Linked DNA regions of Homo sapiens: region 1 is linked to region 2. The links come from fine-mapping of genetic effects on gene expression. A gene starts in region 2. The other region holds a variant in brackets. All regions are shown on one strand. Distances are between the middles of the regions. Region 1 overlaps RBM18 (RNA binding motif protein 18). Region 2 holds the start of RBM18 (RNA binding motif protein 18).

Region 1 (5,384 bases), 24 kb before region 2:
AGCCCACATTGATAGCCTTAAGCAGTACAGTGATGCCACTAGGGCTGGCACAGCCAGTTCTCTATCCCAAAAGATGTGTAAGGGGTCAGAGACATTGACTAAGAAACAATATTCGGTGCACATCATTCTGACATCTGTTGCTTTTATTCTCTGCATTAATACGAGAATTTTAGAAAACACATTTCCAGTCATGGAATATTGTTTAGAGTAGGGTTTGGCAAATTTTTCCTGTAAAGGGACCGATAGTATATATTTCAGGTTTTGTAGGCCACAGTCTTCATTGCCAACTATTCAACTCTTCTATTATATGGGGAAAACAGCCACATGTAAATGCCTGGGCATGGTTGTGTTCTAATAGTTATTAACATACACTGAGATTTGAATTTCGTATCATTTTCATGTCACAATATAGTATATATATTTTGTTTACTTTTTTTCTCAACCACTCGAAAATGAAAAAAAAATCATTCTTAACTTGTAGGCTATACAAAATTAGGAGGCAGAGGCCAGTTTGCTGAACACTGGACTAGATGTTTGCAGGCCTGGGTTCTACCTAAAGCTCTCCCATTAACCAGGTGACCCTGGCCAAATCGCTTTGTCTCTCTGGGTTCCCGTTTTCCCCATCTGGACAATGAGGGGGCTATATGAGATGGTCTCTTAAGGCCCTTTGGCTCTCAAATACCAGAATTCTTGTAGTTTATCCAACAAATATTTATTGAGTATGTATGATGTACAGCCATTGTTTTAAATGCTGAGGGTATAGCAGTGATATACAGTTCCTGCTTACATGAAACTTACATTCCAATAAAAAGAGACAAAAAAAAATTTAGATATAATGTTGGTTAGCGGTAAGTGCTTTTGAGAAAATCGTGAGGAAAGGATTGGAGAGTGACAGGTTGTAATTTTAAGAGGGAGGCCGGGGACTGCCTCTTGATCATTAACATTTGAGCAGAGACATGAGTCAGGTGAGAGAGCGGGCTCTGCGGCTATCTGGAGAAAGAGCGTTCTAAGCTAAGGCAACAGCCAATGTAAATGCCTTGAAGTAGAAGCTCCCTTGTATTCAAAGAATAGCAAGAAGGCCAACGTGGCTGCAGTACACCGCACAAGGGGAGAACAGTAGGCTATAGGGTCAGACACGTAGTGAAGGACAGGTCATTAGGGCCTTACAGATCTTTCAATTTTTTCTAGGCTGTGATGGAAAGCCACAAAGAAGAGAATCACATTTTAAAATAATTTTTTTAAAAATTGCTTTGGCTACTGTGTGGAAAACGGACCCTAAAGAATCAATAGCAGAGGCAGGGAGATAATTAGGAAGGTATTGTAATAGTCCAGGGAAGAGATGATGGTGGCTTTAAGAAAAATGGTGGTAGTGTTGGAGGTGGTGAGATGGCTGGATTCAAGAGGCATTTGGAAGGTAGAGTTGACAGGATTTGTTGAAGAACTAGATAGGAGCTGGAGAGAAAAAGAGAAAACAGGGATAAGCATGCTGGGACTAAATCATATTTTAGGAACAAATGATTACATATAGGAAATGTTTGACATTTAATTTATAAGGCAAGAATTACTCCTGTTCTTTTATGTAGTAGTATAAAAGAATCACAGATATATTTGTTGATTCAGAAACTGTGCATATCTTAATAAACAAGAGACAGAGCTGCAGAATACCTGGTTTCATACAACTTGTGCAACTGATTTTTGACCTGTTTTGTTTTTGTTTTTTTTGAGACGGTGTCTCACTCTGTTGCCCAGGCTGGAGTGCAGTGGCACAATCTCGGCTCACTGGAACCTCTACCTCCTGGGTTCAAGCGATTCTTGTGCCTCAGCTGACATGCTTTGAAAAATCTTTCCTCATGTGATACTCCTCCCCAGTACTAAGATACCAATTATAGAAAATCAACTGGTTAGGATTACATTTTGCATTTGATAAAATAGGAATTGAGATGAAGAAAATAGTTCATACGTCTCTCCTCAGTATTTCCTTCAATTCTTCACTCTTGTATATAAATCAAAATTATAAGTGACATAATTTTAGCAAACCAAAATAACCAGTAAACCAAAGAATAATTTTACTTAAAGTACAGACAACCTCCTAACAAAGAGTTGACCAAGTTAACACCTGAAATTTAAAAACCTTTCATCAGACTGCTTTCAGCATATTTAGGATACATACATTTCTTCTTTTGAAATCTCTACCACGAGAGACTAAACACAGTACGATACTTGCAGAGATTTCCATTAACAACTTCTTTTCAAATAGTGACATTTGCAATGGAAACAGCTGGTCTCTATTCTCATCTCTAACAACAGAGGTAGGCAGGCATAAAGGGTAAAGAGAGTTGCCTCTCAGTTTGACTCTCTAGCCAGAACCCTCTGCAGAGAAGGCACTTAGAAGAAGCACCCCACGTGGACATGCTGGCCAGAGTCCTGAGTGGAAACAAGCCTGTCAGAGAACTGCAGTCTATGCCAGTAAGTGAACGAGAGAAGA[T/C]ATAACCACACGGACACCGTCTTACATTTATTCACACAGAGGGATAAGAATCAGTACAAATAATAAACAGTGCTTTAAATACAAATAAATAGCTCTGGTTTCTAAAGGAAACAACTCTATATATAATTCTAAGTTTTTTCTAAGTTCCTATTAAAAATAGAAGACTATTTTGCACTATGTAAGTTCTAGTCCACCATAATCCTTTGAAGACTTACGGATAAAATGGTGAATTCTATACTCCAAGAAGTCACCAGAAAAATGGGAGATAATGCTCCTACCTCTCTGAACTATCCCCCAAATAGGAGGAGAGTTACTTGCATCATAGACAGACACAGCTAATACATACAGAAAGTATTTGATGTCTAGAGATATTTAAAAAGATTAACCTTGGGAAAAGTAAAAAGAATTTCCTTAAACCAGTTTTATGAATTCTAAAACCTCCCTCTACTGAAGTTTTGATTCAAATGTCTTAAATTCATTTATACTCATGGGAAGATGTTAAGTTCCTATATTGAAAGCTTCCTCTTGCTAACAACGATAGTGATAAACATTCTGTCATCACCAAGAATGGCACCTGGAGTAACAAAGTGATACATACCTGGTAAAGGAGCAAAGGTGCTGCCCAATTAAACAGTATGTCAAACTTGGCATCAAAATGACCAAAATGTGCTGAAGAAACACATCCCTAAATCTGTTGGTTGACTTATCTTTCTCTATTGTTATATTCAGGATGCTTAGAGTGACAAACATATCTAGAGGCAAGTATGTTCTCCAAGTGAAGAATCATTTCCAAGGCATGCAGTCCTTTAAAACTACCTACCACACAGAGTCATTACAGTCTTGGTGCCACAGTGGCATCTGTTCCATTGACTTTCTGTGCCCACTGCATGTCCTCTCCTCGTCCTGCACAAGATAATGCAATCTCTTCCACTTAGACCGCTACACAATTATTAGAAAATTGTATGTTTGATAGTGACCAATATAGCAATGTTTAGGTTTTCAAAGAAATTTTGCTTTTTCTATTTAGACTGACCATGATATAATTCCAAACAGAACATTCTCATGCTATAAAAACAATCCCATGCAATAAATGTAATTTTAAAAGTCCCATGATAATAGCAACATTTGTTATTATAGAAGGCATGGTTATTTAGATTTGAAAAAAATGGTTGCTATAGAATAAAAGTTCAATTTCCAAATAGAACTTGTGTTGTGGTATAAAATGTTAAATTTGATTCTAGTTTTGTCAACACAAACAATTTTAAGATATACACCATGTTTTCCTAGTTGGGATTTTGAAACAATAAGCATAATTCTTAAACAGATTACTACAACATTTGTTCAAAGAATCAGCTCCTTTTTGCCAAGAACTTTCTCTTTTTCAGTCCAGTTGGAGGGATTGCCGTAGTAAATTCTGGAACAACAGTTCTGAACATGATTTAAAATCTGTCTCTCACTTCCCTCCCTGCCTTTTACTTTTTCTTTATGTTGTAAAAGACACACGAGCGTAGAAAAATGCTCAATTTTTTAATAGATGTTAATATTTTTAGTTTCCTGATTTAAATAATATTTTGTGTATTTGCCTTTTGCTCTGGCACACTATAGAATGTTTCTGGAGTTACAAATCCAAACCAACCAGCCAATTAGAGCATCCCAGGGTTCAAATCACAATTTGGGATACAACGCTATTTATTCTGGATGATGCTCAATTCCATACATAGTTTAGGGAAGAAACATCCATAAGAACATCCAAAAACATTATGTTACCAAATGCTAACATGTGATTGTGCTCCGTTGAATAGTACCATTCACATCTACAAAGTACACAGGCAGACGATTTTAGGTGTGGAGACCAATTTGCTTTTGCTGCTACAGTAATTCACAACCATCATCTTCGAGATTTCCATGCTGTTCTAGAATATGGAGTAGTCCTTTTTTTATCTGGTGGCTTAAAGTAGGAATAAACAGGCGCTGCTGGATACTCTGCATCAGGATTTTCCGCCATCATTTTCAGTTTTGCTTCAATGGCTTTTATCTTTGCAGTGACACTGGAAAAATAATAGCAGAGGATCAGAGTGGGCCTAGGTATATTCAGAAAATAGCTGTACAGTTCCTCTCCTTGAGCCTCTTGGGAATATTAGAGACGCAACAAGATACTAAATTACAGACATTTAAACATTTTATATAAAAGCCAGAAATAACTAATTCTCTCATTCTAAGAAACAGATCAAGTCTGAGCCATCTATTAAGTTTTTAACATAAGCCTGGACATTGTTGGGAGTACTTCATATAGTTCTACATTTAATCCTCAGACGCAGACACTGTTAGCACCTTAATGCTTGGCAGAGAGTAGGTACTAAAAATAATTCTTTTAGAATTGAAAACAACATTATAAGATAGGTTATATTCCTTATTTTGCAGATGATGTAACTGAGGCACAGAAAGGTTCATTTGCCCAATGTTACACAGCAAGTAAACGATAGAGCAGAGATTTGAATACAAACTGACTCAAAAGCCCAGGTTTCACCTGAATCACTGAATAAAAATGGAAAAAAAACATTCTGGAAATCCTATACAATCTCTTTTTACTGATGAATGCATGTTAATAAAAACTATCATTTACAAAGTGCTTACAATGAGCCAGGCACAGTGCATTTTACTTATACTGTTTTTTTTTTTTTAGACAGGGTCTTGTTCTGCCACCAAGGCTGTAATACAGTGGTGCCATCATAGCTTACTAAAACCTTGAACTCCTGAGCTCAAGCAACCCTACTGCCTCAGCCTCGTGAGTAGGTAGGGCTACAGGCACACACCACCACATCCATCTGAATTTGTTTTTGTTTTTGTTTTGAGATGGAGTCTCGCTGTGTCGTCAGGCTGGAGTGCAGTGGTGTGATTT
Region 2 (5,384 bases):
TTTTGGTTTCTGCTTCCATCAATGTCTATGAAATACTAAAGGAAATGTGAACATTCAGGCAGGAGGGGAGTAACAATGTGTGAACACAAGACTTCAAATTCAACTCAACAAACATTTATTCAAGGAGGGCATGCCCTCTGGGCAGTCCTTCAAAGGCCTCAGTGATTCCACAACCAGGGCCCCAGAACCAGTTCCCTTGGGACAACTGCTCTGGCAGCCAGGGCACACAAGCTGCCATTTAAGGTGAAAGGGGCGTGGTTCTGTGTGGAGAAACTAAAGTTTTCCTCCTCTGAAGCCAGAGGCTGACTGGGCAGGAGGCCAAAGTCTCTATTACTACATGATACTTCAGTTCAACAACTGTCACCCAAAATAAGCCTTGGAAACCACCAGGAAGAGTCTTAATGGCATTAAAAGGGATGGGTAGGGAAGAGCAGCACTCCATCCCTTTTCCTCATGGAAGAGGCAATATAGCAAAGAGAAGAGGCAATATAGCAAAGAGAAGAGGCAATATAAGAAATCTGTGCGTAGACAGAACTGGGTTTGAAAGCAGGTTGTGTGACTTGATGAACTACCTGAACTTTCTAGGCCTCAGTTTCCTCATTATCTAGAGAGATAATAGTGCTTATTTTATAGAGTTGTTGTGAAGATTAAAGACAGTAAAAAAATCACTAAATACTGTATCTAACAACAGTAAGTAATCAATAAATACTAGCTATTATCATGCTTACTCTTTTGGGACAGACCAGGAAGAAGAGACTAATTTCCTCCTTAGTTATTCAAGTTCCACCATTTGCTAGCTATGTAGCCCTGTGCAAGTTACTTAACAGCTGTTGGCCTCAGTTCCCTCATCTGTAAAATGGGGATAATGCCTCATGAAATTACAGTGCAGATTCACTGAGTTAATACACCTAGAGCATTTAGAACCGTGCATGGCACCTAGGAAGCATTCAATTAATGTTAGCTTAAATTATTACTAGTCTTAGTTCCTGAAATGTCTCATCTCACAGCCAAGGAGAAAAGAGGATTATGATTATGATGGAGACAGCAGTAGAAAGAGCAGAAACCTTGGTGTCAGAAGACATTGTTTCAAATTGTGGCATTTCTTTCTTTCTCTTTTTTTTTGTTTTTGAGACAGACTCTCGCTCTGTTGCCCAGACTCATGGGCGGTGGCACGATCTCGGCTCACTACAACTTCCACTTCCCGGGTTCAAGCAATTCTCATGCCTCAGCCTCCCGAGTAGCTGGGATTACAGGTGCATGCCACTAAGCCTGTCTAATTTTTGTATTTTCTTGTAGAGGCAGGGTTTCACTATGTTGGCCAGGCTGGTCTCCAACTCCTGACCCCAAGTGATCCATCCACGTCGGCCTCTCAAAGTGCTGGGATTACAGGTGTGAGCCACCATGCCCAGCACAAACTGTGGCATTTCCACTGGAAGTTATTTCTTTCTGAGCTTCAGTTTACCCATCTTTAATAAATTTTGCCCTGTTTATAACTTAAGGCTTCGAGGACCAAAAATGAGACGACAGATGTGAAATAAAGCTTTAGGGGCTGGGAGGACAGCAGGCTGTGTCAGAGTTCAGAAGTCCCTGCTAGAGAACACATATCCTATACCCAGAAGTACCTCAGAGGTCAGCACTACAGGAACCATGGAGGCAGTCACAACAACTGCCATTACCTCTTAATCATCTCAGCACACCCTGTAAAGTCTAGCACAGCAGTCCCTAGGTAATTGTTTATTGAATACCCTGCACATGAGGGTATTTTTCTTCCTTTCCCATTCACATCTTTAATCTGTTCAGCAATGTAAGTCAAGCAACTAGGAACTGTTAAACTCTGGGCTATGTACTGAAATAGACAAATGAAAAAGCCACAGCTCTTGTTCTTACCTCCTGGGAGAAAGGTGAAACAGACATAAATTTAATCCCAGGGGAGACACATTTTTGTCTTCCCTCTGCTTTCCTTTCCCCCTACTTTTTAAACAAATCATTCATTCAAAAAATAAATTCACTGCTTCTATTATCTAGGACTTATCCAGTTACTGGAGTCAGAGCAGTGAACAAGCAAGGTCCCTATCCTCTGGATGCTTGTATTTGGAAGGGGAGCAGGACAAAACAAAAGCAAAATAAATAAAGAAGATATAATTAGTGATACATGCCACAAACACAATTAAGCAGGGTGATGTGACAGGGACTCGACGACTATAGATTGAGTGGAGGGAAGGCCTCTCTAAAGGAGATGACATTTGGGACTTGAATGATAGGACATTCTGATTTTCTCATGTCTAAAATCAGGAATAATACCAATAGCTATTAATATTTATTACCACGAAAAGGTACCATGTTTTACTGGTAAGAGTGCAGGCTATGCGGGTCTGGGTTCAAATCCTGACTTTTGCACCTAGTAACTGCACCTTTAGCAAGTCACATGACCTTTCTTTAAGCATCCTCTCGATAGAAAAGCTTTCCTAAACAGAGTTCCTTGTTATTCTATATCATAGCCACTTTTCCATCTTTTTCCTCCTACTAAATGCTAATTCAATGTATTACTTAATGTTTCCTCTTCTATTTCCTTCACTAGAACGTAAGCTCCCACAGCACAGGACCTTGCCAATCTTGATCACGGTTCTATTTCTAGCACTTAAGTACACTGCCTGTCTCACGGTTGGTGCTTAATATTTACTAAATGAAGCAAGCCGCTTCTCCACTCGAAGACTTAGTTTCTTTTTCCTTCCTAGAATGGGTACAATTTGTCGTCTCACGAGGTCGTTGTGAGTCTTAAATAAGACAATTTTGGTGACAGCTCAGAATATGGCTTTTTGAGGAAAGGTAAAGGGTAATAAAAGATCAAGACGGCACGGGACTATCAAAATGCTTTGCGTTTGCAATAGCAACAATCCTTTAGACTACCAGAGTTCACAAAACGCGGTTACATTTGTCTTTCCAGCTGAGCTGCAATAACTCTGGAAGCCAGAAATAGTCATCTGGGGAAAGTGCAATCCAGAGAAGAAGAGACACCTGATCCTAACAGCAAGCGGTGGGGTCATGCCTGGAACCCTGGCTTCCCGATTTCTGGCTGCGAATTCCTACAGGCGAAGGGTCATTACTCGGATTGTTATTTCCGGGCCAGCGACAGGACAATCCGGGGCGGGGCCTGAGATGCAGTCCTGCGAGGGCGGCCTCCTGTAAGACCTCTTAGCGGGCCCATCGCTGAGGTGCAGGGACATGTCGCGGCCGAACTCACCTCGTGGCCTCGGCGTGGTGCTCTCAGCTCATGCCCGGAAACCAGGTCCCGACGCCGCGGTCAGACGGACCTCTAGACGCGTCCGCCTCAATGCCGCCAGCTGCCAGGCCGCCCGTGACGCGTTAAGCCTGCGCCGCCTCCTGGCTTCGTGACGTCACGACGTCCGCGCAGCTGCGGTCGCCGCCGTCGCACGAGTCTTTCCTTAGTAACCTGGGCGATAGCTGGTGAGTGTCCTTGACAGGGCCTCGAGGGGCGCGTGTGGTCTGGGTGCCAGAGACCCTTACTCAGGGACCTCTGGGGGACCTCAGGGGACCAGACTACCGTCCCCGACCCGTTCGAGTCCAGCTTGACCTTTAAGGCTGAGGGCGGGACCTGTGGCATTGGAGCGAGTCTCATGGGGTGGGGGCGGGGCTCCTTTTACCAGCTAGGAATTTAGGGGATGCTGGAGGAACTTACTAAAGAGTAGCCGCACACTTGACGGGAACGTTTGAGTTTCAGAACAATCCCATAGGAGTAGATATTATTATCTCCCATAATGAAGAAACGGAAGCTCACATAGGTAATTTTACCAGGGTCACGCGGTCAGAAAGTGAGGGCGCTTAAATTCAGACCTAGGGCTATCCGACTCCTAAGCCTGGACTTTTAACCACCACTCTGTGCCACCCAGTGGCAAAACAGTTGTCATTTCAGTAGCCCTTCTCCATTTACTTAACCCTGACAAATAGTATTGTCATTTACGTTTTACAGATGAGACGGAAGTCCTGAGAGTTTGACCGATTTAAGGTCACGTGCCTAGGAAGTGCTGGAACCAAGACTCGGAGTTTTCTCTAAGTTTAGTGCCTTTATTTTGTTTTAAACCACACTGTTGCATTTCCCCCCATTTTGGAAAGCTTTATAGTTGGAAAGAATGAAAACCTGATCTGACCCCTTCATTTTATGGTTGAAACAAAATCTACGTAGGAGAAATCACTTGGTACAAGTCACAAGTCAGTGGTAGAGCTGCCGCAAATGCTTTTTGAATACGTGTGATTATGAATCTAAATGGCAGATGGCAGGGAGTGATAAGGTAGGCATACTGGAATCCAGATCTCTTAACTCTTAGGCAAAAGCCCTTTCTCTACCTGTTAAAGTGTCTCATTCCTTCTTTGGCCGTGCCAGGTGCATAATGATTCTGTGTATAGTCAGATACTACAAGTACCTTTCTTTACCTGGTACTGCATTTAGAGAAGAACATCATCTACTATCTCTAAGCAAAAATCTGGCAAACCAGAGACAGTGGAGGCAACGCTGGGAAGCCCAGAACCTACCATAATAGTAAGGGTAGATTCCCATCCGATTCTGGTTTACCCTGGATAAGGAATTTATCTTTCTGGACTTTCACTGATGTATTCATCACATTCACAGTGTCTTCTGTGTTCTGGCAATGTACCAGGTACTGGGGATACAGCAGTGAACAAGAAAATCATAGATTAGTCCTTGTAGTACTTAGAGTCATATGGAGGGAATTAGACAATCAAATAATTACACAAATGTTAGCTTGTATTGTTAAGAATTAAGTGCTATGATGAAGTAAAGGGTGCTATGAAAGCAGACTACAGGACACTTGACCTAGTTGGGCTGTAGGAGATGGCCAAGGAAGCCGTCCTCTGAGGAAGTGATGGTTAAGCTGAAATCTGAAATAAAAACGGAGACAAACAGTTAAAGAGGTGAGGGAAGATCATCAAGGAGATTCAATGGCATGTTTGAAGACCCTGGAGCAGGGGGAGCCCTGGAGAAGTGAAAGATCACTTTTCTTATTTTGCAAAATACGGGTGGTGATTATCACTCTTTAGTTATGAGAACCAGTTAAGATGGTACATGTGAAAGTATTTTATATGCAAGAGCCTGCGTATATGCACACTCATAGAAGTGCTTATGTTATAAGCTAGTATACAGCTGCATTGAAAAGAGTTGCTGGGACAGTAGATAAGCCAGGATTTTGGGTTGGTCATCTAGCCAAAATTAAAATGAACCTTCTGTGAAGAACAGGGAAATCGTTTGAGACCCTCAACTTTGGAAAAAGAATGTGTGCTTCAAGTAGTTTAAAAAAATATTTCAGTCTGTAATCTCAGCACATTGGGAGGCCCAGGCGGGCGGATCACGA

The links. PIP is the estimated chance that this variant, and not a neighbour inherited with it, causes the effect.
Region 1: its variant is the best candidate, but not a certain one, in a credible set for the expression of RBM18 in tibial artery (GTEx, PIP 0.55).

The regions. Positions count from the first base shown.
Region 1 is chr9:122,237,511-122,242,894 of GRCh38, forward strand. It overlaps RBM18 (RNA binding motif protein 18), which reads right to left. Exons shown (of 6, transcript NM_033117.4): 6 at 112-4,533. The coding sequence ends at 4,374. Among named protein-coding and RNA genes, the nearest start is that of LHX6, 11 kb to the left of the region's middle. RefSeq lists a silencer at 1-26. The variant T/C (reference allele first, on the strand shown) is at 2,486.
Region 2 is chr9:122,261,474-122,266,857 of GRCh38, forward strand. RBM18 (RNA binding motif protein 18) reads right to left here and starts at 3,367. Exons shown (of 6, transcript NM_033117.4): 1 at 3,242-3,367; 2 at 1-35. The coding sequence starts at 19. It overlaps MRRF (mitochondrial ribosome recycling factor), which reads left to right and starts at 3,409. Exons shown (of 7, transcript NM_138777.5): 1 at 3,409-3,465. RefSeq lists enhancers at 2,549-3,520, 2,899-4,098, 3,521-4,491, 3,667-3,826.